Homo sapiens: one gene and its partners. The protein of the gene in region 7 purifies or fractionates together with the protein of the main gene of each other region. This does not show direct contact. Each region holds a gene or a part of one and is shown on either strand. Other genes may lie near its edges.

Region 1 (4,193 bases), on a different chromosome or scaffold from region 7:
TGGCGGGCGCCTGTAGTCCCAGCTACTTGGGAGGCTGAGGCAGGAGAATGGTGTGAACCCAGGAGGCAGAGCTTGCAGTGAGCCGAGATTGTGCCACTGCACTCCAGCCTGGGTGACAGAGCAAGACTCCATCTCAAAAATAAATAAATTAATTAATTAATTAAAAAAAAAACCTTAAATACTAGGGTCTTTCCCAGCAGCACTTTCTCTTTTAGTTCCTAGGCAAGATTTTTCTTCTGTTGACTTGGATAATAACTAGAGTATTGTGGTTGGCCATAATTTTGAGTTTAGGCAAAGTTTGCTTTGTTTCATGGTCACGGAGCTTGTGTACAGGGATAGCCCACCCTCCTCTGCAAAGAACAGGGCTGGTCTCAGATTCAGCACATCCTTTAACTGCTCATGCCAGCTGGTCTCATTGTCTGTTGTGAAAACCAAGTGGGGTCATGGATGAGAGCTGCTGAGCAGGACCTAACACTCTAAGTACTCTGGCAGCAGTGGCTGCTGTAAAGGCAGTTAGAGGAGGCTTTGGGGGTCTGTAAAGTGTCTGTTGGCCCACATTAGGGCCTATCTTCTTTTTATTCCATGCTGACTTGCAGTTTGCTCTCAGACTCTCATTCTGGTCCTCCAGGGCAGCTGTGCAGGTCGAGTTTTGGGCCTCTGCAGGAGTACCAGGATGAGGGCAGCCCGAGAGGGATTTCTTTTTGTTTTTTGTTTTTTTTTTTTTTTTGAGATGGAGTCTCACTCTATCGCCCAGGCTGGAGTGCAGTGGCATGATCTTGGCTCACTGCAACCTCCGCCTCCTGGGTTCAAGCGATTCTCCTGCGTCAGCCTCCTGAGTGGCTGGGATAACAGGCACATGCCACCATACCTGGCTAATTTTTGTATTTTTAGTAGAGACGGGGTTTCACCATATTGGTCAGGCTGGTCTCAAACTCCTGACCTTGTGATCTGCCTGCCTCAGCCTCCCAAAGTGCTGGGATTACAGGCGTGAGCCACCGCGCCTGGCCCCGAGATGGACTTCTAAGAGCCTGGTGCCTCCTCTCGCTCCTGGCACCTCTCCTCTTCCTGAATTCCTCCCTGCCGAGCTCTGCAGATCTGGATGCTGCTTCCTCACCCAGCTGTGCAGTGTGAACGTGGTACAGGACATCTTGATCTGCTCAGGATCCTGACTTTTGTCTTATGGGCAATCTTGCTTCCTGAGGCAGAAGGATCATTTGAGCCCAGGAGTTCAAGACCAGCCTGGGTAACATAGTGAGACCTCATCTCTCCAAAAAATTCAAAACATGAGGCAAGAAGATCACTTGAGCTCAAGAGGTTGAGGCTGCAACGGGCTCTGATAGCGCTACTGCACTCCCGCCTCGATGACAGAGACCCTGCCTCAAAAAAATAAATAAATAAATAAATAATTTTTAAAACCTGCAAATCTTTAACAGCCATTGAGCCTATGACACCCTATGGGCATTTCCTGTCATGGGTGCTGGTACAGGTCTGACCTTGATGACAGCCTGTCTTCCCTGGGGAAGGACCCAGTTCCACAACTGTTGCGGTCTGTGCTTCTTGCCACAAAGGTAACAGAGTAGAACTGGGGTTGTCCCTTGGCCTGCCCTTGGAAGGCTAGGAGGTTCTCTGTGTACAAGTGACCCAGGTCCCTGAAGGAAGCACTTCATGACCCTATGAAGAGGGCTTCTGCCTGGCACCCACTCCATCCCATCCTCAGTCACACTTGATTGGAGTACATTTCAGAACAAGCCTCCTGCTTATCCCCTCCTTCTGGCTGAATGGGCAGTCGGCAGTCTTCATTCAGCCAGGCCTGGTTAGAAATCCCCTTGACTGTGTGTTTCTGTATGGAATAGATGGCCTACTGCCAGCATATTGGGGTGGAGTTCATGTTCATCAATGACCTGGAGCAGTGCCAGTGGATCCGGCAGAAGTTTGAGACCCCTGGGATCATGCAGTTCACAAATGAGGAGAAACGGACCCTGCTGGCCAGGCTTGTGCGGTCCACCAGGTATGGGTCTGGCCCTGGGCCATGGGGCAGACATTCCCAGGGAAGCAGTGACCCTGTCTGTGTTGATCGGGCCTGTGTGCAGCCTGTTGGCCGAGGTGAGAGGGGGTTTGGGGTGGTACAGGCAAAGCTCCATCTGCACATGTGTGAAGAGACACCAGACAAGTAGAGTCAGCCTTCAGAGCAACCTCCGCCTCCTGAATTCAAGTGATTCTCTTGCCTCAGCCTCCTGAGTAGCAGGGATTACAGAGGCACACCACCACGGCTGGCTAATTTTTATATTTTTAGTAGAGATGAGGTTTCACCGTGTTGGCCAGGCTGGTCTCGAACTCCTGACCTCAGCTGATCTGCCCACCTCGGCCTCCCAAGGTGCTGGGATTACAGGTGTGAGCCTCCATGCCTGGCCAGAATCCCCTCTTTTTGGTCAGGAAGAGTGACATTGCCCTTCAAGGTGGCTTGGTTCCCTGTCCAGGTTTGAGGAGTTCCTACAGCGGAAGTGGTCCTCTGAGAAGCGCTTTGGTCTAGAAGGCTGCGAGGTACTGATCCCTGCCCTCAAGACCATCATTGACAAGTCTAGTGAGAATGGCGTGGACTACGTGATCATGGGCATGCCACACAGGTACAGCCAAGGGCGCGCCCAACCTGGTTTCTCACCATCCCTGTGGGCTGTGTAGGAGGCACCAGGTAAAGGCACTGAGAGAGCAGCTGTTTCCTCCTTGAGTGCCAGTTGTGAGTCTGGGCTCATCTGGTACCTGAGGGTGTATTGCTTTGCAGGGGATTCTCACATTGCCTGCCTCTGGAGGACTGCAAAGTCATGGTCACCTCCAAAGCCACATGTAGTTTCAGACTGGCATTTGGCCTTACAGTGCATCTTTATGAAAATTAAACCCAAGTTCCCTTGTTGGGGTCTAACCTGGAGGGAAGGCTGCTTCCTGACATTGAAGGGGAGGCCAAGACTGTGAAAATAGGGAAGGTGTGGGGAGGGAGAAGGGTAAGGAAGCCTCAGGCCCATGGCATTGCTGCATCTTCTATCTTTCTGCTGCCCACTGTGGCCTTGATTGCCCAGCACGGAGAGGCTCGGTTCCCACATTAGCTCCAGTTTACAGCTATCCTTGGGCTGCAAACCGAGGAGGTGCCGTGTCCTGGGGGGAGGGGGAGGGGGGGATTGTAACACCCTCATCTGCCATCTGGAAACCATGACCTCAGGCTCTGCTCACCCTACTCGCCCATACGTTCCAGAGGGCGGCTGAACGTGCTTGCAAATGTCATCAGGAAGGAGCTGGAACAGATCTTCTGTCAATTCGATTCAAAGCTGGAGGCAGCTGATGAGGTGAGGCACCTGCATAGAGACACATCCAGCATAGCCCCAACTTACACAAGACCCCTGGCTCCACTTCTTTCTTAGAATGACTTACGGGGGGTTGGTTCTTCTGTACCATTTGTGATTTGCCTTCCTTGTTGGGAGAATTTTAGTGTTGGGACAAAGGTGGCCAGTGGCCCACCTCCTGGTCAGAGGTCCAGCAGCCCCACTCTGAGTGCAGGGGTGTGTCCCCTCTGGCTGAGGGACGTTCTCCTTATGCCCTGGATGGGAATGATCCTGGGAAAAGGCCTCCATATCCTTCTGCGTTGGGTTCCTGGGAGTAGAAATCCCATATAAGGCTGGGCATGGTGGCTCACATCCGTAACCCCAACACTTTGGGAGGCTGAGGCAGGCGGATCACGTGAGGTCGAGAGTTTGAGACCAGCCTGACCAACATGGAGAAACCCCATCTCTACTAAAAATACAAAATTAGCCGGGCGTGGTGGCGCATGCCTGTAATCCCAGCTACTCGGGAGGCTGAGGCAGGAGAATCGCTTGAACCCAGAAAGTGGAGGTTGCAGTGAGCCGAGATCGCGCCATTGCACTCCAACCTGGGCAACAAGAGCGAAACTCCATCTCAAAAAAAAAAAAAAAATTCCCGTATAAAAGGGCTCTTTTGGAGACTGAGCATCTCCTTGGCCAGGGTGCAAATTCACTGTTTACCCCATCAGGGCTCCGGAGATGTGAAGTACCACCTGGGCATGTATCACCGCAGGATCAATCGTGTCACCGACAGGAACATTACCTTGTCCTTGGTGGCCAACCCTTCCCACCTTGAGGCCGCTGACCCCGTGGTGATGGGCAAGACCAAAGCCGAACAGTTTTACT
Region 2 (4,672 bases), on a different chromosome or scaffold from region 7:
CTTCTCTCTGGCCTCCCCCACTGCAGAGTCCCTCAAATGTTCCTGGACTCATCGAATTTCTCTAGAGCAGGGAGTCTTGGACACATGCTCATCTCAGTAGATGCCGAGTGCCCAGTGCTGTGCCTCATCATGCTAGAAATTCCCTTGATGTCAGCATAAAAGGAAGCCTGGAGCCCTGGGTTGGGAGTCCAGACCCCCAGGTCGCACTGGGGATTGTCCCACTTGCTAGCTGGGATCCTGGCTAAGCCAATCAGTCCTCCCTGCGTCCAAAAGTGGCTGAGTGAATTAAATGGGAATGTGTGCAGACGTGCTTTAGCGTTAACTGGGTAAAAGGCGTGGTTACTGGATGAATGAATGAGGGAATGAATGAATGAAACGTTCCCCTCTCCCTCTCCCTCTCCCAGCTGATCTTCTCCTGGCGCTGCACCGAGGCGGAGGGACAGCGCTGGCATGAGAACCACTTCTGTTGCCAGGACTGCGCCGGGCCTCTGGGCGGGGGACGTTATGCCCTGCCTGGGGGAAGCCCCTGCTGCCCCAGCTGCTTCGAGAACCGCTACTCGGATGCAGGCTCGAGCTGGGCCGGGGCACTGGAAGGGCAGGCATTCCTTGGTAAGGGAGAGGATGCAGAGCAAAGCGGGAGGGAGCTTGGGCTGGGCTGTGGGGGTTCTCCCGGGCTGGGACCCTCGCCCCGGTCCCACGCCGTCCCGTCCCTCCAGGAGCGCCCCCACCGCACCCCCCAGACCCAAGCCTCGGGGCCCGCAGCTCTCACCGCGCATCCCTGGCCGGAGCGTTCCAAGGGCCGCCCGAACCCACCCCGCGCCGCGGTCGGGGTTGCGGCGCCAGACTCCCTCCCAGGCGCGGGAGGCGGACGCCCTCTGGTGGAGGCGGGGGACCCTGGCGAGGACTCTCGGCGGCGGCGGCGGCGCGCACGGCCCAGGGGCTGGGCGGGGCGGGAGGCTGGGCCTCACCCCCACTAGCTGCGGTGTAGGTCCAGCTCCGCGGCTCTGAGACCAGCGTTTCCGACCCGGCCCGGAACAGGGGAGACTGGACTCGACCGAACTGAAGGAAGGGACCAAACCTCGGTGAACTCTGCAACCCTCTCCCGAACACTCCTCGCTGCTGCCGGCGGTTCCAGCCTGCAAACTCAGAGGGGGCTGCCTGGATCCAGTCCCCAGCAGGAGAACCGACCTGGGGACAAAGCGGAGGCACCCAAAGGGCAGGAGCAATGCCGCCTGGAGACTATTCGTGATCCCAAGGACACCCCTTTCTCCACCTGCTCCTCCTCCTCTGACTCGGAACCTGAAGGATTTTTCTTAGGCGAGCGCCTTCCCCAGTCCTGGAAGACCCCCGGAAGCCTCCAAGCAGAGGACAGCAACGCCTCTAAGACGCACTGCACCATGTGCTAGTGGCGCAGCTCAGAGAGGGGATGTGAGTGGGAGGAAAGGGGTCTGTAAAGCGGGAGAACAAGGCTAGCCTCCCCCTAACAATCCTAGACTGAGACGCAGTCAGGCGCACGCCCGCAAGAGGCGGCGAGGTGACAAGTTTGGAGTGCGCCCCCTTCAGTACTGCGCGTTCTAAGACTTTTGGCGGAGACTTTCTTGGCAAAACCCATTCCCCAAAGCTACGCTTCCCCTGCTGAGATAGCCCCTACCCCCACCTCCACAGGCTGGGACAGCCCCGTCCCCACCATCCTCCTCCCAAGCCAATTAAATGATCACAGCACGCGTGACAGTTACCGGCTGGAGAGCCGGAGGTGGGACCGGGAGCAGGGGACCGTAGAACCGGGCCGCGCTCCTCCCCTCCTAGAGTTCGTGGAGGCGCAGCAGAGGGCCGTCCCTCTTCCGGATGTCGGACTAAGCGAACAGCGCCCCCACTGCCGGCCGGTAGCAGCCGGAAGTGCCAGACCGGAGGTGCGTCATTCACCGGCGACGCCGATACGGTTCCTCCACCGAGGCCCATGCGAAGCTTTCCACTATGGCTTCCAGCACTGTCCCGGTGAGCGCTGCTGGCTCGGCTAATGAAACTCCCGAAATACCGGACAACGTGGGAGATTGGCTTCGGGGCGTCTACCGCTTTGCCACTGATAGGAATGACTTCCGGAGGTAACCGAGCCCGAGGAACTTGGTCCTTTTCTGGCCCTTAAATCCGTATTTCCCCTTTCTTGCGAGGCTGGCGCCTCAGGGTTTTTTGTTTTTGTTTTTTAACATTACCAGCATTGTGGCGTCTTCGTAGCTCTGGCTGTGCCTCACTGAGATCCCTGGCCAGGAGAGTTCCCGTGTGGCAAAAGCGATCTTTCTGTCATGTGGCTGTATCTGTAATGTCACCCTGATCAAGGGAAGAAGTGCTAGCACGTAAACAGGCTTTTTCGGCCCTGGACTAGTGCTTTAGCTGGGCTTTGCGTTTGATCTTACATTTCTTTTTTGTTTTTTTTTTTTTTTTGAGACGGAGTCTCACTCTGTTGCCCAGGCTGGAGTGCAGTGGCGCGATCTCGGCTCACTGCAAGCTCCGCCTCCCGGGTTCACGCCATTCTCCTGCCTCAGCCTCCCGAGTAGCTGGGACTACGGCCGCCCGCCACCACGCCCTGCTAATTTTTTGTATTTTTAGTAGAGACGGGGTTTCACCGTGTTATCCAGGATGGTCTCGATCTCCTGACCTCGTGATCCGCCCGCCTCGGCCTCCCAAAGTGCTGGGATTACAGGCGTGAGCCACCACGCCCGGCCTTTTTTTTTTTTTTTTTTTTTTTTTTTGAGACGGAGTCTCACTCTGTCGCCCAGGCTGGAGTGCAGAGGCGCAATCTCGGCTCACTGCCCCTTCTGCCTCCCGGGTTCAAGCGATTCTCCTGCCTCAGCCTCCCCAGTAGCTGGGATTACAAGCGCGCGCCACCACGCCCAGCTAATTTTTGTATTTTTAGTAGAGACGGGGTTTCACCATCTTGGGCAGGCTGGTCTCAAACTCCTGACTTCTCGATCCACCCGACTCTGCCTCCCAAAGTGCTGGGATTACAGGCGTGAGCCACCGCGCCCGGCCACATTTATTTCTTTTTGAGACAGCCTCGCTCTGTCGCCCAGGCTGGAGTGTAGTGGCGGACCTCAGCTCACTGCAGCCTCCGCCTCCCGGGTTCAAGCGATTTTCCTGCCTCAGCCTCCCCAGTAGCTGGGATTACAGGCGCGCACCACCACGCCCAGCTAATTTTTGTATTTTTAGTAGAGACGGGGTTTCACCATGTTGGCCAGGCTGGTCTCGAGCTCCTGACTTCGTGATCCGCCTGCCTTGGCCTTCCAAAGTGCTGGGATTACAGGCGTGAACCACCGCGCCCAGCCTGACCTTACACTTACTAGGCACAAAAATGAACTCCAAATTCCCACGTGGGTCTTGAGCAACCTGCCGTCACAACCACGTATCAACGCCTCGGGAAGGTGGTGATGGAAGCCTTTCCCCCCAGTACATTTCGTTAACTGTACAACTGACTCAGTGACCACAGGGTTAATAAAACACATTGTTTTTCCAGGAACTTGATACTAAATTTGGGACTCTTTGCTGCGGGAGTTTGGCTGGCCAGGAACTTGAGTGACATTGACCTCATGGCACCTCAGCCAGGGGTGTAGCCAAGTAGGTAAGCACTGAACTACACCCATGCGTGTCTTAGGAGACCTAGAGACTGGGTGAAGCAATGTTTTCTGTCAAGTATTCATGAAATGTACAAAAGAATGTGATGTAAAACCCTTAACTATTCCTAGTTAAATGTGTTTTCAGATGTTGAAAGGGATTTAAGTATCTCTTACCAGTTTCCCTCCCATACTTTTACAGTTCTAATGCCACCTGTCGTCTTATCATCTGATTGCAGACAAATGGAATCCTGTGCTGAACCCGAATCTTCCAAAAAACAGCCTACAATCTGTGACCACCACAAGATGTGCCCTGATGGCAGCTGAAGTTTGATTCAGATGGGCACTTTTCTTCCCCTTCCCTGCCTAGTTTCCTTTTGTTCCTTGAGTCCACGCAGAATTCCATTCTCTGGTCAGCAGACAGGCTTAAGCTAAAGTATTGCCTCTATTCTGTAAAGTTCTGTACATAGTTCCCAAGCTTCTGCAGGGGGTGATTTTTGCTCTTGTCCTGAGAAATAACAGTGCTGTTTTAAAAAACATTTGAAATAAATACCGCACACAAAGGCAGTCATTTTATTCTTTTAATAAGAAACTTTTGCTTACAAAAACAAGGTGTAAAAAGATTTACAAAAATCATAAAAACATGATTTATATTTCACACTTGAGAGACAAAAACAAGCCCCAAAACATGGATTTTAATGGAGGTGGTTTGCTTCATTTTAAAAGGGAAAAAAAAAAAAGGAAGCTGTAACCATACATTGATGTTAACCTAGCATGAAGTTTATTCTTGAAGAATTTACATTGTTGAGCAATATTAGGGGAAGAAGCCATTTGGTGTTGCATAGCATTTTAGTGCACCAGATGGGTTTTCCAGACACCAGGGAGGCATCATTGCTGGAATAGTGAGGTTTGGTGGCAGAAAGAGGGCAGTGATGTGTAGGGGGAGGCAAAGTGAAGTAAGCCTGGGCAGTGGTCACTAAAGTGACACTGCTGAGGCAGCTGCTTCCTTCAGAAGGAAATGTTTTGTGACCCTAAAATTCATGGTAGTGCTACTGTCCAGGGTTTGG
Region 3 (4,193 bases), on a different chromosome or scaffold from region 7:
AAATGATAAAAGCAGGTTTCAACTGTGGTTCTTCTCTCAGTTGAGAAGGTGCAGATACACATGGGTGATCTACTGATTTACCTTCTGAAAGTACTCTTTGGAAGCAGCTGGACTTGGCTTGATCTGAAAATACAAAAGCTTAATTAGGTAACTGTGACTTTACCATAATAATAGTCCCAAAAGTGAGTGGCAATCTCCCAATTTTTAACCTAAAGTTCTTTAAACTTTTAAAGATTTCCTTTAAAACATAAAGATGAAAGTTTCATTAAGGCCTGCCTGTCTCTAGGCCGGGCACGGTGGCTCACGCCGGTAATCCCAGCACTTTGGGAGGCCAAGGCGGGTGGATCACGAGGTCAGGAGATCCAGACCATCCTGGCTAACACGGTGAAACCCCGTCTCTACTAAAATTCAAAAAATTAGCCGTGGTGGTGGGCGCCCTGTAGTCCCAGCTACTCAGGAGGCTGAGGCAGGACAATGGCGTGAACCCAGGAGGCGGAGCTTGCAGTGAGCTGAGAGAGCGCCACTGCACTCCAGCCTGGGCGAGAGCAAGACTCCGTCTCAAAAAAAAAAAAAAAGGCCTGCCTGTCTCTGATAATTGGTTCCTGGCTCCCCACCCCACCCCCTCTACCCCACAGCAGCTTCACCCATTTGCATATCATCTGCACGCTTGCTTCAAGAGTGGGCTCCCTTTTGTGGATATTTCAGGTCAATAGCTCTCGAGGCTGAGAGAACATGGACCTCACTGCTTTTGGGGAAAAAAACCTACCGTAGGAGAATCCGGTGTCCAGTTCGCTGGGCAGACTTCTCCATGTGTTTCTACATACTGGAACGCCTTCACCAAGCGGAGGGTTTCTTCCACGCTTCGGCCCACTGGGAGATCGTTGACGCTCAAATGCTTGATGACTCCATTGGGGTCAATTATGAAGAGACCTCTGCATGATCATTTATCCTCATCAGTGCCTCAACAGTACCAGAACTAGAACAGTCTAACTTCTTCCCTTTTAGGTCTTTAATTCTCCTTTTAATAAAATATTTATTAAGCGTAATCATATGCTTAAAGGTGGGGTTTTCACTGTTGTGCAAAAAACTTATCATCTCTTACTGATGACAGATGCTTTAACAAAGGCAGTACTGGACCAGGTCACCATAAAACATGCAGTATGGTCACACTTACAAGTTCACATAGTGCCCTGAATGTTACACAGTATCGGAAAGTCACTGAACTAGAGAGAGCAAAGACTATTAGTGACTTGGCAAGCATTCTTTGAGCTGCTGTATCACATCTTGGCAAGAAACTTATAGGCAAATGGGAAGAGACAGAGGTGTATTTTATCTAGGTTCAACAACTGTTTATTATGAATGAATTATTGGGTAAATGGGGGGAAATCCCACGGGAAAAATCTTCATAGAAAGAATGTACAGGCTCTAAGTCTATGCAAAACAGAAAACCATGCCCATCACTTTTAATCATGTAGCAGCATGTAATGAGATGAACCACGCTACCACAGTGGTCTGTGTTTATCTTCTGTGTTGGTGTTACTGTGACAGATGCAGATATGTTTAGCCTAGAAGTTTTTTTGGTTGTTTGGTTTAAATATAGGGTCTCACTGTATTGCCCACGCTGGAGTGCAGTGCTCTTCTCAGGTGTGATCACAGCAGGCTGCAGCCTCGAACTTCTGGCTCAACTGATCCTCCCACCTCAGACTCCCAAGTAGCGTGACTATAGGTGTGTGTCACTGTGTCCGGTTATTTAACCTACAGGTTTTAACAGTCTGTCTTAAAAGGATGTGGAAATTTCAGGTATCAATCACTCATGGAAAAGGCAGGTTAGAGAAAACTCAGGATAAAAGATGCTTCTCCCTCCCTGGGTCAGGCACTGGGAGCCTGGGGTTTGAGGTGAAACTGTTCCCAGAGGGTGCAGCCAGCTGAAGTCCACCAATAGAAGGTGAGGCAGAGCTGGGACAGAGCAGGGCCCATAGACTCCCAAAAGTCTTTATCTTATAAGCCAGACTCAGCTTCTCTCTCTTGTTAATCTCAATATTAAAACGGGTACAGAGGTAACTGCAAAATTAGTGAGTTCTCATAGGGAAAGGGACCGTAGGAGAAAAATAGCCAGTACCCTTTCTCTGGCCATTGACAATTCTGAAAGACCTAGGCATTCGTTTGATAATCTCTTTAAAGTTTAAAAAAAAAAAAATGGTCTGCCAGGTGCGGTGGCTCATGCCTGTAATCCCAGCACTTTTGAGAGGCCGAGGCAGGCAGATCACGAAGTCAAGAGTTTTGAGACCAGCCTGGCCAACACGATGAAACCCCATCTCTACTAAGAATACAAAAATTGGCCGGGCGTGGTGGCGTGTGCCTGTAATCCCAGCTACTCGGGAGGCTGAGGCAGGAGAACTGCTTGAACCCGGGAGGTGGAGGTTGCAGTGAGCCGAGATCACGCCACTGCACTCCAGCCTGGGCGATAAAGCAAGACACCGTCTCGAAAAGAAAAGAAAAAAAAAAAAAGAGAGGAAAAAAAGGCCCAAACTCTAAGATGCCACTCAGCGCTAAAACCCAAGGTGTAACCCAAGAAAGAGCAGGCCAGAGGTCACCTACAAGACAGGCAGGTGAGCTGGCTTTGTTTGTTTGTTTGTTTGTTTGCTTTTGAGACAGAGTCTTGCTCTGTCGCCCAGGCTGGAGTGCAGTGGTGCGATCTCAGCTCACTGCAAGCTCCACCTCCCAGGTTCACGCCATTCTCCTGCCTCAGCCTCCCGAGTAGCTGGGACTACAGGCGCCCACCACCACGCCCAGCTAATTTTTTGTATTTTTAGTAGAGACGGGGTTTCACCATGTTGACCAGGATGGTCTCGATCTCTTGACCTCGTGATCCACCTGCCTCGGCCTCCCAAAGTGCTGGCATTACAGGCCTGAGCCACCGCGCCCGGCCAGGTGAGCTGGCTTTAAGCTGACCAGCCCCCAGCAAAACTGTGAGGCACAGCACATCAAAGGGGGATCCCCTCTCTTCCTTCCTGGAGGTCAAGTTCTGCCCTATCCCTCCTTCACTCCTATTCTCAGCAGACTTCAAGATGCCAATTCTAAGACCCAAGTTCTCATCCCTCCCAGGAAGGTTATGTTTGAATGTGGGGCTGCTGAGGACTGAAAGCTTTTCACACTCAAAGGAATAAAGGTTTAATAAGGGACTGAATACAGATAGAAATGATGTTCTGGGGCAGAAATCCTAACAACTGCTGCCAGTAACTATGCTAAAAACTCTAGCTGTGTCACTATTTAATCCTCACACCCACCTGTGACGTACCACCTCATTTTAGTTATGGGAAAACTGGGGCTCAACAAGGTTAAATCAAATCAGTTGCCCAAAGTCACACAGCTATTAAGTAGCTGAGTTAAAAAAAAGAAAAACTCAAACCAAGGATTGTTTGGTTCCAGGGCTGAAGATGGTCACCATTCCAAGAGACTACCTCTTACCCTGCTAGTCCCCCCTTCTGCAGAGTCTGATGGCTTCAATGTCAGGTGTGTGTCCCCATGGAAGTGGCTCCCACATAGTTAGGGAGTATGGAGCAGTGTGGCCTCAAGACGCAGCCAGCCTTCTTCAGAAAGAGACCCAAGGTGGTGGAGGGGACATGCATGTCTCAGCATTTCTGAGAGACCGCCAACCCTTGCAGGAGGCATTTCATCAGTGTTTATTAAAGACTAAAATTAAGGATTGATTATTATAAATTTTAATTCTTTTTAATATAATAGGGATGAGGTCTCACTATGTTGCCCAGGCTGGTCTTGAACTTCTGAACTCAAGTGATCTTCCCGCCTTGGCCTCCCAAAGTGCTACGATTACAGGCATGAGCCACCATGCCCAGCCAGGATCTTCTGGTTTTAAAAATGCTTTACCAAGGTCTACATAAATCCCCTAAGAAGCAGAATGATACTAAACATGAAAAATAATCTTAAGTTCATCAGAAACAGGATCTTACCTTAGTGCAAGACCAGAACCTTCTAACAGCACACCGTAGTCTCGGGAAATCTGCTTAGTTAAGTCTGACAAGAGTGCGATGTTCATGTGGCCCAAACCACCATTCTAATCAAAATGCAAACATGACTGTTAGAATGTGTGGCCTCACAACATTCTTGACCACGTACCACAATGTTTGAGACCAACAGTAACGGCGATAGGTAACAGTAATTCAACAACGGGC
Region 4 (3,793 bases), on a different chromosome or scaffold from region 7:
CCCCACCCTGTCCTCAGCAGCCAGGGCAGGCCACTTGTGAGACCCTCTCCTCTGCCCCAGACCCCAGCACTACGAGAATGTCCCCTCCCTGTCCCCAGCCCCAGTCGGCTCCAGGGGGCATTGGGTGCTGGAGACTAAAGGCAAGAAAGGTCTGGCTGGACGACTGAGACCTGCCTGGCCTCGGAGAGCTGGAGCCCCAGCCCGGTGGGGAGGGTGGGCTGGCCCCGCTTCCCTGTGGGTTGAGGCTGGCAGTGGACGGGGCAGGCTGTGGGCTGCAGGTCAACCAGATGAAGCCTCTTCAGTGGCCCAGTGTTCCTTGCAGTGCGAGGCGCCTGGTGGAACGGAGGCCTGCAGGTGTTGCCAGCAGCTCAGCCAGTGCTGTGGGGCCTCCCGCCCTGCCCCCATGGCCCCTCCCACTGGTCAGGTCGAGGGCCAGGCCTCAGAGCGGCCCCTGTGTCCACGCAGGTGTTTGGTCTTGGGAACAAGACCTACGAGCACTTCAATGCCATGGGCAAGTACGTGGACAAGCGGCTGGAGCAGCTCGGCGCCCAGCGCATCTTTGAGCTGGGGTTGGGCGACGACGATGGGAAGTGAGTGCCCACCCTGCCACCATGATCAGCGCGGCGGGCTTAGGCAGGGGCCGTGGAACGTGAGGGGCGCGCACACCATTGTGTCAGCTGAGACTCAGCGACACGCACCTCCAACACAGAGGGAAGGGGCTCTCCTGCCTCTGCCCTGCCCCTGCCAGTTTTGCTTTTCGGCTTGCCCAACTCCCTGGAGCCTTCCTGATGCTCTGGGTTTATGTCGCTGGGTGCCCCAGGGTGCACAGTCCTGAGCTTTGGGGATGGGGTGGGGTCGGGGCGTGCCTGGCACCAGGTACCGTTGCCACATGGGCCTCCCCTGAGCCGCTCCCCCTCTCCTCTCCTCGGCCCAGCTTGGAGGAGGACTTCATCACCTGGCGAGAGCAGTTCTGGCCGGCCGTGTGTGAACACTTTGGGGTGGAAGCCACTGGCGAGGAGTCCAGGTGAGCAAGTGCCCGCAGGTGCGGTGGGTGGCCTGGGCGGGTCCTGTGCCGAGGGCAGCCACCCTGGAACAAGGGCTGGCAGTGGGTCGCAGCAAGGTTAGAAGACACTCCGTCATAGGGTCGAGGAGGGACCTTGGTCCCAGCCAAGGACTCACTCTGCCACGTTGCTCTGCACTGCCCTGGGGCAGCGGGGTGCATCCCACCTCTCGACAAGGACACATCGCGTCGGGCTCTGTGGCTAGGTTCAACTTTGGCAAAAGGGCTCATTTCCTTAAAATCTGCCTCCACAGACTTGGCCAAAAACATAACGTTCCTCTCTGTGCCCTTGATGGCCCCTGGGTGCTGCCCGGGCTTCCTTACCTTCTCCCAGATGGAAGCCTGCCCAGCCCTGCCCCGGCTTCTGGGCGTCTGGCCCCCGGCAGCTCCACGCCGCCTCCCTCCTTGCTCCCTCGCCTGCCCTCCTTGTGCATCTGCAGCAGGGGCTCCCCTGCTTCTTGTCGTATGTACCTGGGACCTCACCCCAAAGGCCATGCACGGTCTCCCCTGTAGTCCAACCCCTCCCTCTCGGGACTGACCCCTGCCGCTTCCCGGCCTCACCCTTGGTCTCCCCTTTCCAGCATTCGCCAGTACGAGCTTGTGGTCCACACCGACATAGATGCGGCCAAGGTGTACATGGGGGAGATGGGCCGGCTGAAGAGCTACGAGAACCAGAAGCCGTGAGTGGAGGGAGCGTGGCTTGGGGCAGACGGCTCTATGGCCACTGGTGCACCCCAGGCTCAGTCTGCCGTGTATCCCCATATCCCCACAGGGCCCTTCTCACCAGACCCCGTGCCCCGAGTGGGTGTGAGTGTCCACGACCTGTCCACGGCCCGGCCCCAGGAGACTGGCACTCGCCCAGTTTGTACTGAGCTCACTTAGCCACCTTACTCTGCACTGCCCAGGGCAGCGGGGCACATCCCACTTCTCGACTAGGACAGTGCATTGGCCTCTGTGGCTAGGATCCTCTTTGGCAGAAGGGCTCATTTTCTTAGAATCTATCTCCATAGATAGACTTGGGGGAGAAACCTGGCGTTCCTCTCTGTGCCCTTGATGGCCCCTGGTTGCTGCCCAGATTCCTGCCCGAGCCACCCAGGGAAGTCCTCGTGCCACTGCATCCAAGACCAGCTGCCCTGCTTTCTGTAGGCCTGCCCCAGCCTGGCTGGAGCGAGAAGCCCTGCATGTCGGTGGCTTTCCGGAGTGCAAGTTTCTCTCTTGTCCACGGTGTAGTCCAGGACGTGTGGGGGTGGGGGAGCTGTGCTCCTCATTTGGGGACCAGCCACCTTCCAGCCTGTGGCACCGTCAGCTTGGGCCTCACAGTTCTTTTAGGGGCCAGCCTCAGTTTCCACATCTGTAAACAGACACTGATGACCCAGCTCTGCCCATGTGGTGGGACTATAGAGAGAACTGCATTAGGGCTGGGCGAGGTGGCTCACAGCTCTAATCCCAGCACTCTGGGAGGCCGAGGTGGGTGAATCACCTGAGGTCAGGAGTTCAAGACCAGCCTGGCCAACATGGTGAAACCCCGTCTCTAGTAAAAATATAAAAGTTAACCAGGCATGGTGGCGAATGCCTGTAATTCCAGCTGCTCAGGAGGCTGAGGCAGGAGAATTGCTTGAACCTGGGAGGCAGAGGTTGCAGTGAGCCGAGATCGCGCCGCTGCACTCCAGCCTGGGTGGCAGAGCGAAACTCTGTCTCAAAAAAAAAAAAGAGAACTGCATTGGACCAGGCTGGGAGAGCCCTTGATGTAACCGGTGAGATTTCCTCATGGAGATCTCTGAGATTCCCTGTGCTTTGTGCAACCAGAAGCGTCCTTGGAGACGGAGACTCAGATCAAAGCCCCGGCCGCTCACTGTGCTTCTCTCCTCCCCACCCAGCCCCTTTGATGCCAAGAATCCGTTCCTGGCTGCAGTCACCACCAACCGGAAGCTGAACCAGGGAACCGAGCGCCACCTCATGCACCTGGAATTGGACATCTCGGACTCCAAAATCAGGTACCAGCTGCCACTGTCACCCCCTGAACCCTCACTCTGGGCCTCCTGACCTGGGGCAGGGCCAGCCTTCCGCCCCTCCCGAGCCTCACATCTCCCTCCAGGTATGAATCTGGGGACCACGTGGCTGTGTACCCAGCCAACGACTCTGCTCTCGTCAACCAGCTGGGCAAAATCCTGGGTGCCGACCTGGACGTCGTCATGTCCCTGAACAACCTGGATGGTGAGTGCCACAGTCAGGGCGCCCTGCCGGGCTCAGGCAGCCGCGGGATTGGGCCTGTAGGAAGGCCCTGGGTTGAGCTTCTGCTTAGGCCTGAAGCCCCGGTGCCTGGGAGGCCCTTGCACCGAGACTCCACGGTTACAGGATCCCAAGCAAACGGGAGGCGGGGTGGCCCTAGGGGTCTAGCCCTCTCTGTCGGGGTTCCCCCTACCCCGTCACTGTCATAGTCCTTTAAGGGAGTGAGGTGCTGAGGCCTGGTGGCAGAGGCAGCCCTGGCTCCCCCATGGCCACTGTGTCCTGCTGGGAAGGAGGGCCTGGCTCCACGACCCACCTCTGCCGGCCTGGGGCTGCCCCCACCTCCTCACTGAAGTCAGGAGTCAGCAGCCCTCCCAGGCCCCCAAGGGTGCACAGTGGTGCCGAGTGGCAGTAGCCATTACGCGGGGCTGCCTGGGCCTGGTGGGGCTGCCCAGCCTGAGCCTCCCGCTGTGAAGCCCTCGGACCCCACTGGTCACCAACCTGGGC
Region 5 (4,193 bases), on a different chromosome or scaffold from region 7:
CACCCTGTCAAATCCAGTCTTCATCTGAAAGCTTGCAGCATTCGATCCAGCTGACCACTTTCTCCTTTCTTTGCTCAGCTTCTACGTTGTCATCTTCTCGTAGTTTTCCTCCTGTCCACCAGCTTCACCCTGGAAGTCCTCGTCTCCTCCACTGCGTCTTTGTCCTCCCCACTCTAAATGCTTGAGGCCTCAGCGTTTAAGCTTTAGAACCTCAATAACCTCATTCAGGCATTAGGTTGCAGTAAAGTGAAAACGACTGAATGAATGAAGAGTGGTGCTGAGGCCCTCTCTGTGTGATGGAAACTTTCCCACAACCCCATCAGGATACCTGCTGTGTCCTGTCTTCAACACATGACCACTTAACATGGCCCAGGGAATGTCTCGTAGTCAGTCCATATAGTAACCGTTAACGGAACGTCATGTTTTTGTAAACATTAACATGGATAAAAGTTCTGATATTTACTTCCACCCTCAGTGGATCATTCTGCGCTTCCCTTAGGGGAAGACTACTTGGGAGACCACTGGGTTAGAAGATGGAACTTTGAGGGCCAGGCGCGGTGGGTCATGCCTGGAATCCCAAACCTCTGGGAGGCTGAGGTGGGCAGATCACTTGAGGTCGGGAGTTTGAGACCAGCCTGGCCAACATGGTGAAACCCTGTCTCTACTAAAAATACAAAAAATTAGCTGGGCATGGTGGTACACACTTGTAATTGCAGCTACTCGGGAGGCTGACGCAAGAGAATCACTTGAATCCGGGAGGCGGAGGTTACAGTGAGCTGAGATTGCGCCATTGTATTCAAGCCTGGGCAGCAAGAATGAAACTCCAGCTCAAAAAGAAAAAAGAAGAAGATGAGACATGGAGAGCAGGATTGCGGTTCTGACCTTTGAGCCAATTGGCCTCACAGGGGAGAAGTGTCTCCCCGAGATGAAGGATTGCTACTCTGACTGTTCACCTGTCTCAGACAAGCACAGGGTACTAAGTGGAGAAAAATCTAGCAAGTTCATAAAATAGGAATAAGTTAGTGAGAAGTCTCAACTCCAGATTACTCAAAGAAGTGGGCCAGATGTGACAAAATGCAGTAAAAGTAAGGAATGGGCAGACTGGCAAATAGGAAAATGCGTTTTCTTTCCAGAAGGAGCTACGATTATTTTAATAAGCTCATTAATACTTCACTGCAGCCTGCCAGTACTCATAGATACACTGCCTAGCTGATGGGCTCACTAGCCAGACATGAGAAGTGAGCCTGTGGCTGTAAGGCAGAGCCTGGAGGAGCTGGGAGTTGGCCCAGCAGAATGAAGGGAGGGTGCTCCAGGTAGTGGAAGCAAGCACACTGGGTGTGAAGAAGCAGCATGCTTGGGGAATTACATGGAATTTAGAACTGCTGGAACATGAGAATTAAGGGGCTGTGGTATGATATGATACTAAGGACTTTCTGTGACATGCTAAGAAATTTGGACTTTGTACTATATACTGTAGGGATTTTTTTGTTTTTGTTATTTTTATTTAAGTTCTAGGGTACATGTGCACAACATGCAGGCTCGTTACATAGGTATACATGTGCCATGCTGGCCTGCTGCACCCATCAACCCGTCATTTACATTAGGTATTTCTCTCAATGCTATCCCTACCCCTGCCCCCCACCCCACGACAGGCCCCAGTGTATGATGTTCCCCACCCTGTGTCCAAGTGTTCTCATTGTTCAGTTCCCACCTGTGAGTGAGATCATGCGGTATTTGGTTTTCTGTCCTTGTGATAGTTTGCTCAGAATGATGGTTTCCAGCTTCATCCATGTCCCTGCAAAGGACATGAACTCATCCTTTTTTATGCCTGTATAGTATTCCATGGTGTATATGTGCCACGTTTTCTTAATCCAGTCTATCAGATTTGAAGAGTGGATATGTTATAGGAGTGAGGCAGGAGGAAAGGTGACATCACATTTTTATTTTAGAATAACAATTTGTTATGTATTTGGAGATGGGGCTAGCTGGCTGCAGTATAACCAGTTAGGGCCTATTTATAGTAAATTAGATGAGTGTTGACAGGGTCTGAACTAAGATATAATTGTGCAGGGGAGAGGAGACTGATTTGAGATAATTTTAGGAAACTGAATTGATAAAACTTGGTGACTTCCAGGATAGGTAGCATGAAAGACTGCTTCCAGATTTTTTTTTTTTTGAGGCGGTTCTTGCTCTGTCACCCAGGCGGAAATGCAGTGGTGCGATCTAGGCTCACTGCAACCTCCACCTCCCGGGTTCAAGCAATTCTCCTGTCTCAGCCTCCTGAGTAGCTGGAACTACAGGCTCATGCCGCCACACCTAGCTAATTTTTATATTTTTAGTCGAGACAGGGTTTTACCAAATTGGTCAGGCTAGTCTTGAACTCCTGACCTCAGGTGATCCACCTGCCTCGGCCTCCCAAAGTGCTGGGATTACAGGCATGAGCCACCACACCCAGCCTGCTTCCAGGTTTTAACCTGAGAATTATGTGGGGAGTAATGCCATTAAATAAAAAAAAGAAGCCATCTGAGTACCATGTGCCTGGCCCCACACTAAGCTCTTTGTATTCTCTTATTTCATCCTCACAACTACCCAGGGAAGTGAGTGTTGTTATTCATCACCATTCTTTGATTGAAGAGGTTGATGCTTAGAGAGGTAAAGTGACTTGCCCAGGGTCACACAGCTAGTGGCTGCAGAGCCTGGATGTAAGTGTGGCCTGACTTAAAGCCCACACTCTAGACCACTCTGCTGTTCAGCCATTTGCTCAGTTTTGTCTCAGAGTCTTCCCTCTTTTGAGCACAACAGAAAGATGTTAGAAGTGGGACCCAGGCAGGCTGAACTAGAGGCTATACTTTGTTTTTTATTTTTATTTTTTTGAGATGGGGGTCTCACTTTGTTGCCCAGGCTGGAGTAGAGTGGCACGAACACAGCTCACTGCTGCCTCAACCTCCTGGGCTCAAGGGATCTTCCAGCCTCAGCCCTGAAAGTAGCTGGGACTATAGACTGGTGCTATCACATCTGGCTAATTTTTGTATTTTTTGTAGAGACAGGGTTTTGCCCTGTTGCCCAGGCTGGTCTCTAGCTCTTGAGCTCAAGTGATTCACTCACCTTGGCCTCCCAAAGTGTTGGGATTACAGACGTGAGCCACTGTGCCTGGCCATGTGTTTATATATATATGCCATATATATATAGTCCTTATATGTATAATATATATATATAATAAGTATATGGCCTCTATATATAGTCCGTAGCATCATATTTTATACACACACACACACACACACACTTTTTTTCTTAGAGAAATGGGGTCTCAAAGCGATCCTTCTGCCTCAGCCTCCCAAAGTGCTGAGATTACAGGTTTGAGCCACCACACCTGGCCTAGAGGCTACACATTGAAGCACGTGCTAGGAAGTGGAGGAGGAGAAATAGGTTTAGAGAGAGAGATGATGAATTCGGTTTTAGACTTGTTGAAATTGAGGTGTCTGCTAGATACCTTGCATCAAGACAGAAAATACAAATAATATACTGTTTGTATATGATGTTTTATAAGTAAGTGAGAAAATCAGGGGGAAGAGAAAATAAAAGGAAAATGTAGGCAAAGTGAAATTAGTTTTATGTGTGACTCATGCTACATGTCCTGTGCTCTCACTGGTCCTGACCTTTCTAACAAAAAACAGAGGGAAATCCTATCAGTGAGCAACTCTAGACATAGAGGTTGGAGGTCACAGCACAGATTTTATTGAAGTTGGGAGAGTAGGTGAGATTTCCTGGGAGAATGTCTGGGGCAGTGATTCTCCATCTTTGAAGTACACAAGAATCACCTGTGAGGCTTATTTACAATGCAAGTTACTGGAGTCTACCTCAGAAAGCCTGATTCTGGGGGTCTGGAGTGGGAGTGAGTGACCAGCATGCAACCCAGGTGATTCTAAAGCAGGTGGACTCATGGCCAACTTGAGAAATTTGGGGGTGAAATAACTTAAGAACAAGGCCGAGAAAGCTCCAAATGAGTTTTAAAATGGATGTGTGCAAACCCTAAGGATCAACCAGGATAATCCACTGGGTGCAGAAAGCATATGGAGCTTCAACTTCTGTTTTAATCTCAACTTTAGTTCTATTTAAATATGTTTAAAATGTGTGTTTTATTCATTTGGTAGGCAATTTAAGTGATTTATAAGTAAATTCATATAGTTAGTAGG
Region 6 (3,500 bases), on a different chromosome or scaffold from region 7:
GTGAAAATGTCCTTTCTCTCTAAAAAGTAAATGAAATTGCATGAGTAAGTGCAGAATGCGGAAGGTGTCTATATCAGAGTCAGTTTGACTACATTGACAACAGTCTCCACAGAGTTTTCTCCTGACCTTTTATTTTCATCTTGATTTTTCACAAGATGCACATCAGGGTGTGGGGTGTCGTACAGCGAAGCAGGGACATGGAAATGGATTCATTGGGAACAGAGGTTGAGTGGCTTCTCGGCTGTGCCTTGTCTTGCCTCGCTTCGGAGGAAGCTAGTTGCCTTGACTCCTAGCTGCCACTTAGATCCACCGCAGCTTTTCATGCAGGAGCCATTTGGGCTGAGGGCAGGATCCTGCAGCCACTGGAGACCTGGCTGCCACACCCACACCTACACCACCAGCAAGCCCCATCCTCTTCCCCCAGCCCACTCCACTCCAGGGCACTCTCACCTGATGCCTAGTTCCAGATTCCGGACTGTCACAGGAAACTACCCTTATTAGAACTCATCCACCCTGCCGCTGTGAGTGCTGAGGCTTGGCCGAGTCTCCGTTCCTCCCTTCGAGTTCTCCATTCCTCAGTTGGTGAACGGGCTGTGTGCACCCCTCATAGCCATCCATACAGCTAACTTGGTTATTCTCATGTGTGTCATTCAAAAGTTCTAAATTCTAAAGCCAGGCCAGAGCTTTTGTGACCTGGTTCGCTTTAAGGGCAACCTCTTCAAAGAGGTTCTACTTAAAGTTCCAGGTCATGACATTTTTCTGCTGGAATTTGGTTGGGCCCTTGGAGTTTTCTTACAGGAATTTGTCCCTCAGCAGGCAAAATGTAAGTTGAGATATACATGTGTTTGTCATAGGAATCATCTTTTGTACCAGGTGGTTTCTGTGCTCTGAGAGTGGGTACAAGGTGATACCATATGTGTTTACTGGGCTATGAGTCCTAACCAGGTGGCTTCAGCCCAGGAAAGAGATGGAGTAGCCAACTGAGACTGCTGCTGGGGGTCTTCAGGAAGTTGCCTGTAGCTAAGTAAAAAATATGTCCTATGGTTTTTCCTAGAAAATGTTGTATGGTATGGTCAGCTGAGTAATAACCCCCCAAATATGTCCACATCCTAATCCCCAGGCCTTATGTAGCAAAAGGGATTTGTAGATGTGATTAAGTTAAGGGCTTGAGGGTGGAGAGAATATCCTGGATTACCTGGGTGTGCCTCATGTAATCACAAAGACCTTTGTAAAGGGGAGGCAGGAAGGTCAGAGTGAGAGGAAGAGATGGATGATGGAAGCAGAGGTCAGAGTGATGTGGCCATGAGCCAAGGAATGCGGGCAGCCTCTAGGTGCTGGAAAAGGCAAGGAAAAGGATTCTCCTCTAGAGCATCCTGAAGAAGCACAGCTCTGCTGACCCATTATAGACTTCTGACCAGTAAGATAAAAAATTTTGGCTGGCATCATCCTCAGCAAACTAACACAGCAACAGAAAACCAAACACCGCATGTTGTCATAAGTGGGAGTTGAATAGTGAGAACACATGGACACAGGGAGGGGAACATCACACACCAGCGCCTGTCAGAGCCGGGGAGCGAGGGGAGGGAGAGCATCAGGACAAATAGCTAATGCATGCGGGGCTTAAAACCTAGGTGACGGGTTGGTAGGTGCAGCAAACCAGCATGACACATGGATACCTATGTAACAAACCTGCATATTCTGCACATGTATCCCAGAACTTAAATAAAAATTAAAAAATAAAACATGCACTTTAATCAAGTACGGTTTATTTCAGAAATGGAAGAAATTAGGGAATTTGAAGTTAGAAAATCCAAAAAATGTATGCATTAAAAATTCTAAGAAAAACAATCATATGATAATCTCTATGGATGGTGAAAAATCCTTCAATAAAATTTATTTCTTGCCTTAAAAAAAAAAAATTGGGCATGGTGGCTTGTGCCTGTAATCTCAGCACTTTGGGAGGCCAAGGCAGGAGGATTGCTTGAACCCAGGAGTCCAAGATCAGCCTGGGCAACATGATGAAACCTTTGTCTCTACAAAAAATTTAAAAATTAGCCAGACAGGATGGCGCACACCTGTAGTCCCAGCTACTCAGGAGGCTGAGGTGGGAGGATCACTTGAGCCCAGGAGTTCAAGGCTGCAGTGAACTGTGATCTCACCACTGCTCTCCAGCCCGGACAACGGAGCGAGACTCTCAAAAAAAAAAAGTGTTGTTTTAAGCCACTAAGTATGTGTAACTTGTCACAAGGGCAATAGGAAACTAAGACAGTGGCCAATCTGACTGTGAAAATAAGGGCAGGCTACACTGGAGAGCAGGGATAGGGACACCCGGGGGGCAGAGATGTGGGTCACCTTAGGGGAGGACACACTCAGGAGGCCGGCCCATGATGGCACATGAAGGCTGGGAGCACGGTGCTCAAGGATCAGCTCATCAGGGAACTTGACCAAATTTAGAGCAAGCCCCTTTGATAGTGTATAGAGATGTTTGTTCTAAGCAGCAATAGAAAGCTTCTGGAATCTGTTCCATTAAGAGGTGATAGAAACAAAATATGAGTCGTTTTGGAGTTGTTTTCAGCAAAGTCACAATGATAGCACCATTATAGATATTTTACAGACATAATCCTGATCTTTTGGGTGGATGACCAGAATGTCTAGTTGGTTCACTGAGCCCTGGTTTTGACCCAATATGGTAATTCGTGAACTCTTAGGAGGCCAGAAATATCCTAATCCTGTGCAAGGCAGGGACCCTTGGACTGTAACTGTCTTGTCTGCTTTTGGTCGTGAAGGAGACTCAGAGGCCCAAACAAGAATTTAGGAAAAAGAGCAATAGGATTGTGTTTAAAAAACACACACATCCATTTTTAACCAGTTTATTCCCTACAAAAAAAAAAAAATCAAGGTACCAATTTTGTTTCCTCTTGTGCAGACTGAGAATAGACTTTATTACAGTGTATTCAAATTCCATTATGCCAAAACAGGATGAGCTTTTGTTGTTTTGAATAATGGCCTTAGACCTGCAGGAAGCTGCATCTGGTGAGAAACATGGTACCATAAAAGAAACCCAAAAACTTCAAAGGTCTGCCACCTTGCTTCCATTTCAAAGCACGCCGGAGAGAACTAAGGACATGTGCACGTGCCCCTTCCTAACTTGGGACCTCTTTACCCTACACCCCAACTGAGGGGTATTTCATGATGCGGTGCTTAGAATGCTGAGATGGAGTATAAAAGACTTTTTTTTTTTTTTTTGAGACGGAGACGGAGTTTCACTCTTGTCACCCAGGCTGGAGTGCAGTGGCATGATCTTGGCTCACTGCAACCTCCCCCTCTGGGGTTCAAGTGATTCTCCTGCCTCAGCCTCCCGAGTAGCTGGGATGACAAGCGCCCACCACCACGCCCAGCTAATTTTTGTATTTTTAGTAGAGATGGGGTTTCTCCACATTGGCCAGGCTTGTCTCGAACTCTTGACCTCAGGTGATCCGCCCACCTCAGCCTCCCAAAGT
Region 7 (4,193 bases):
AGTCTCCCTTCTACTTCCTACTTAGCTGGGCCTGCAGTTGCCAGCTACAGAATCCAGCCTAAAGGGAAGATAAATGATAGAGGAAGAAGGAACCACAGTATATATCTAATAAGGTGTGAGTATGCCTATATGTCAATTATTTTGGAATAATTTTGTGATTTGTGTATTATTCCTTCCCTTTTATTACTTTGGATGATAACATTGCTTGTAATTGTTTTATCACATGGTTGTTTTATCACATGGTTGGTTATATCACATGGCCTGGAGTAGTGACTTCTTGAAATGCCATATTTTCATTCCTGTTACAGAATAGTCATGCATATGTTTCAACATTTATAGAGTAGTTGCTTTATGAAGGTCCTGTCCTAGGCATTGGAGGTAAAGAGATGAATAAGTAGTCTTCAGCCTCAAAGAGTTCACAATCTAGGAAGTGAGAGACACAGTGCAGTTTGATTAGAGCCACTGTAGATACAGGTACAAATGTAGCACAAAGGAAAGACTGACTTACTCTATATGGGGGTGGGAGGGTGGGGGTGGTCAGAGGAAGCTTTCTGGAGAAGATTTTAAAATGTGGATGGTATTTTGAGAGTTTATATTCCAGGCAAAGGGAACAGCATATGACAAAGCAAGGGGCCATGAAAGTGCATATCGTATTTACATAACTAGGTGATTTAGTATTGGTAGAGGTGAGAATAAAATGAAAGGAGGGCAGTGGCAGGTCATGGAGGTCTTTGGCTTGTGGGTTATCAGTCCATTCGTTCATGCATTCATTCATGCTTATAAAATATAGCAGTGAACAAAAACTCTGCCCTATGGAACTTATATTCTAGCTGGAGTGGAGACAGTGAACAAACAACTAATATAGTATGTCAGGTAGTGATAAATATAAAGAAAAATGAAGCAGCTGAAGGGGCTTGGTGATAGAGAACCCTTGAAGGAATTAAGCTGGGAAGAGACATGATCAGATTGGGTTTGGGTTTGAGAGAAGTCACTCCAGCTACAGTGTTAAGAATGGATTGGAGAACGGTAAGGATGGACATAGATCAGTTAGAGGAGATCAGTTAGAGGAGGCTGTTGTAACACAATAGGCGAGAAATAATGAAGAATTAAACTAAGATGATGGCAATGAGAATAGGGAGGAAATGATGTGTGTGAGAGTTTTAGAAGTTCATTAGGTGACACCATTAAAGTTTAATCACACTTTAAAACTATGTAACTAAATTAATGCCACAGGAGTTTGGAGACTGAATGACAATAGAAAAGGGATGACACAGTCCAGAGGAATGTGGACATTTCAGAGGGCTGACCAAACAAAACCTGCTGTTTACTTATCACATGGTCTCCTATGAAGTTGGCACCAATTACTTCTTTTTCTTTTCTTTTTTTTTTTTTTGCTATGGAGTCTTGCTCTGTCTCCCAGGCTAGAGTGAAGTGGCGCGATCTCAGCTCACTGCAACTTCCTGCCTCCCGGGTTCAAGCGATTCTCCTGCCTCAGCCTCCGGAGTAGCTGGGATTACAGAGCCTGCCACTGTGCCCAGCTAAGTTTTGTATTTTTAGTAGAGATGGGGTTTCACCATCTTGGCCAGGCTGGTCTCGAACCCCTGACCTAGTGATCCACCCACCTCAGACTCTCAAAGTGCTAGGATTACAGGCATGAGCCACCACGTCTGGCCGGCTCCAATTACTTCTATCCCGGAACATATGTTCTCATTATTTGAAGTTGCTGAGCAGAGTATTGAAGTGACAGTTTACTCTTGGATCCTCCCTTTTTCCTTAAGTGCATGTTACCCATGTACAGTTTTTCTTTTGACTTTGCTTCTAAGTGCAATTTTAGATCCTTAAAAATCATAGTAAATGTCAATTACATATGTGACACTTTTACGTCTTGGTTTTGGATTTTTTTCAGTTTTTTTTTTTTTTAAGGCTCTTGTGGTCTTACGAAAAAGAGAAGAAAAAATACCATGTTAACTTTCATTCTTCCACACTGCTAACCTCTTTCCCAGTTATAACTTTGGCTCCAACCTCATTGTGGTTTGCATTAGTCAGAACTGCTCAATGGCAGTTTTTACGGAGGTTATAAATGTTCAGGTCAAAAGAATGATTAAGAACGCCACTAATTGTTTAGTCTACTTGCTTATAATGTCACTTACAAATGCCATTTTAATAAAAAGCAGTATATTAACGTCGGGCATGGTGACTCACACCCCATAATCCCAGCACTTTGGGAGGCCAAGGCAGGCAAATCACTTGAGCCCAGGAATTCAAGACCAGCCTGGGTAAGATGGTGAGACCCCATCTCTACAAAAATACAAAGAAAGTTAGCCTGGTGTGGTGGCACAGGCCTGTGGTTTCAGCTACTGGGGAGGCTGAGGCGGGAGGATTGCTTTGAGCCTGGGAGGCAGAGGTTGCAGTGAGCTGAGATTGCGTCATTGTACTCCAGGCTGGACGACAGGGCGAGACTGTGTCTCAAAAAACAAAACAAAACAAAAAAGTATTATTTAACATCTGCCGGAAGCTTTGGTAGATATTTTCCAGAAGGAATACAGCTGAGTTAACCTCTTGTAAATATTTCCCAAGAGGGTATCCTGAAGCCTGTAAGAGCTGATACAGAGCAAAGGTTATTTGCACAAGTGACCTGGCTTAAAACTTAACATCGTTTGGCAAAATTCGAGCTTATTTTGGTAGTTATGTTGAATGAAATATTTACCCTATTTTGAGTTCCTAGCTAGGAATTCTAGTGATAGTAGTAATAGGAGTTTTAATTGACTAAGTCCTAATATGACAGGAACCATGCTAAAGCTTATGTACATTATGTCATTTAAATCTCACACAACAGCTCTGAAAAATGAGTGATACTATATGTACATTACAGTTGAGGAACTAGAGGCTTAGAGAAGTTAATTTATCTAAGGCCTTGCATTTGTGAAATGAAAGAGATGGCATTTCAACTCTGTTCTTGCTCCAGAGTCCATATTCTTTCCTCTATGCTGGATTACCACATCTGATGTTCCCGGGGAGATATCTACTTACTATTCATCAAGTTGCTGTCTTTGTCATGCTAAGTTTCAAAGTTTTTGTGATTAAATAGATCATGATCAAATACTTTGTCATATAGTTAAGAAGGCATTAGTTTATGTTGTACTTAATAAATTATAAAACATCATTCTGTCAAAATGAAATTCATAATAAGAAAATGTAATGGGTGGTTTAAAAAGGTAGACCAGCCAGTTTACTTTTGTGAGTGCATTTTGCCATTTGACTTGTGGAAGAAGACAGTGTTTGGAATGAAAGGGAATTAGGAAGAATGTGGAAGACCCAAGATCAGAGAAGAAAGGAGGAAAAGAGAATAGGTCATGGAGGGTTTACTGCCTAGTTGCAAACTGTCTTTGGACTGTGAATGAACAGGAAACTGAAGATTTAATCGCTGTGGTTATTTGTTAATATGCTTCTCTAGATTGCATTTTAAGATGGACCAGACCTTCTCTACATAGACTTTTTTATGTTGGGAAGTTACTATAGAGCCATCTACCCTTGTGGTCATTTAATAAAAATACCTGAGAATGAATTAAGTGATCTGTTTTTAGGCTGCAGAGAAATGGATTGCTGTTGTAGTCAGATGAGATACTTTATGGAACACTTTAAAAGCAAGTGCTAAGCAAATATTACTCCGTTTGATTTTATTTCCTTATTATTGAGAAGATAACTTCTGCTGTTATTCCGATTAGTATGTTAATTTCAACCCTAAACCAAATCAAGGGATCATGACTAGAGTCTACCGTTGTAGCATAAAGTATTAATAGCTCTCTGCCTATTAGTGTTCTCTTTATTTGTTGGGTCTTGGGGGTGATATTTTGTCATATCCTTGTCCCAACATCTGGGCTCAGAATCAACTGAGAGATAAGACACAGGATACAGACAGAGAGGTAAAAACATTAGCTTTTTTACTGATAATGCTGGTTGGAGATCGTGGCTTAGATCTGTACTACCTAATATTTACCCTGAATTACACTCCATCACAGGCAGTGTACCACAGAAGGCCTCCTCTGCAGGTGTAGAGCCTAACACATGCTACCAAAACAGTAGAGAGAGAACTTACAGCATAATTAACTTTTGCAGAATGAACACATCTATTTTATCTGTATTTAGATTAAGAAACAGCATTACCAGTACTCTAGGAAGCCCTCTTTGTGCTC

What was found.
Region 1: the proteins of AGPS (region 7) and OGDH fractionate together in Homo sapiens (co-fractionation; one large-scale study listed by BioGRID). This does not show direct contact.
Region 2: the proteins of AGPS (region 7) and TOMM6 fractionate together in Homo sapiens (co-fractionation; one large-scale study listed by BioGRID). This does not show direct contact.
Region 3: the proteins of AGPS (region 7) and PRDX3 fractionate together in Homo sapiens (co-fractionation; one large-scale study listed by BioGRID). This does not show direct contact.
Region 4: the proteins of AGPS (region 7) and POR fractionate together in Homo sapiens (co-fractionation; one large-scale study listed by BioGRID). This does not show direct contact.
Region 5: the proteins of AGPS (region 7) and SCCPDH fractionate together in Homo sapiens (co-fractionation; one large-scale study listed by BioGRID). This does not show direct contact.
Region 6: the proteins of AGPS (region 7) and EMC8 fractionate together in Homo sapiens (co-fractionation; one large-scale study listed by BioGRID). This does not show direct contact.

What each region holds. Positions count from the first base shown.
Region 1 is NC_000007.14:44,671,934-44,676,126, forward strand, and holds part of OGDH (2-oxoglutarate dehydrogenase complex component E1 isoform 1 precursor), read left to right. Parts: intron 1-1,853; coding exon 1,854-2,008; intron 2,009-2,477; coding exon 2,478-2,624; intron 2,625-3,244; coding exon 3,245-3,335; intron 3,336-4,036; coding exon 4,037-4,193. UniProt on the Homo sapiens protein: 2-oxoglutarate dehydrogenase (E1o) component of the 2-oxoglutarate dehydrogenase complex (OGDHC). Participates in the first step, rate limiting for the overall conversion of 2-oxoglutarate to succinyl-CoA and CO(2) catalyzed by the whole OGDHC.
Region 2 is NC_000006.12:41,785,724-41,790,395, forward strand, and holds TOMM6 (mitochondrial import receptor subunit TOM6 homolog), read left to right. Parts: upstream 1-1,970; 5' UTR 1,971-1,974; coding exon 1,975-2,102; intron 2,103-3,508; coding exon 3,509-3,605; 3' UTR 3,606-3,613; intron 3,614-3,807; exon of another isoform or gene 3,808-3,844; 3' UTR 3,845-4,172; downstream 4,173-4,672. Other genes in the region: PRICKLE4 (prickle-like protein 4), read left to right, coding at 405-609, 1,039-1,406.
Region 3 is NC_000010.11:119,168,411-119,172,603, forward strand, and holds part of PRDX3 (thioredoxin-dependent peroxide reductase, mitochondrial isoform a precursor), read right to left. Parts: intron 4,076-4,193; coding exon 3,972-4,075; intron 933-3,971; coding exon 767-932; intron 124-766; coding exon 70-123; 3' UTR 1-69. UniProt on the Homo sapiens protein: Thiol-specific peroxidase that catalyzes the reduction of hydrogen peroxide and organic hydroperoxides to water and alcohols, respectively. Plays a role in cell protection against oxidative stress by detoxifying peroxides.
Region 4 is NC_000007.14:75,980,583-75,984,375, forward strand, and holds part of POR (NADPH--cytochrome P450 reductase), read left to right. Parts: intron 1-465; coding exon 466-590; intron 591-934; coding exon 935-1,024; intron 1,025-1,641; coding exon 1,642-1,740; intron 1,741-2,937; coding exon 2,938-3,054; intron 3,055-3,155; coding exon 3,156-3,274; intron 3,275-3,793. UniProt on the Homo sapiens protein: This enzyme is required for electron transfer from NADP to cytochrome P450 in microsomes. It can also provide electron transfer to heme oxygenase and cytochrome B5.
Region 5 is NC_000001.11:246,730,231-246,734,423, forward strand, and holds part of SCCPDH (saccharopine dehydrogenase-like oxidoreductase), read left to right. Parts: intron 1-4,193.
Region 6 is NC_000016.10:85,789,545-85,793,044, reverse strand, and holds part of EMC8 (ER membrane protein complex subunit 8), read left to right. Parts: intron 1-111; exon of another isoform or gene 112-748; coding exon of another isoform or gene 749-823; intron 824-3,500. UniProt on the Homo sapiens protein: Part of the endoplasmic reticulum membrane protein complex (EMC) that enables the energy-independent insertion into endoplasmic reticulum membranes of newly synthesized membrane proteins.
Region 7 is NC_000002.12:177,395,564-177,399,756, forward strand, and holds part of AGPS (alkyldihydroxyacetonephosphate synthase, peroxisomal precursor), read left to right. Parts: intron 1-10; exon of another isoform or gene 11-115; intron 116-4,193. UniProt on the Homo sapiens protein: Catalyzes the exchange of the acyl chain in acyl-dihydroxyacetonephosphate (acyl-DHAP) for a long chain fatty alcohol, yielding the first ether linked intermediate, i.e. alkyl-dihydroxyacetonephosphate (alkyl-DHAP), in the pathway of ether lipid biosynthesis.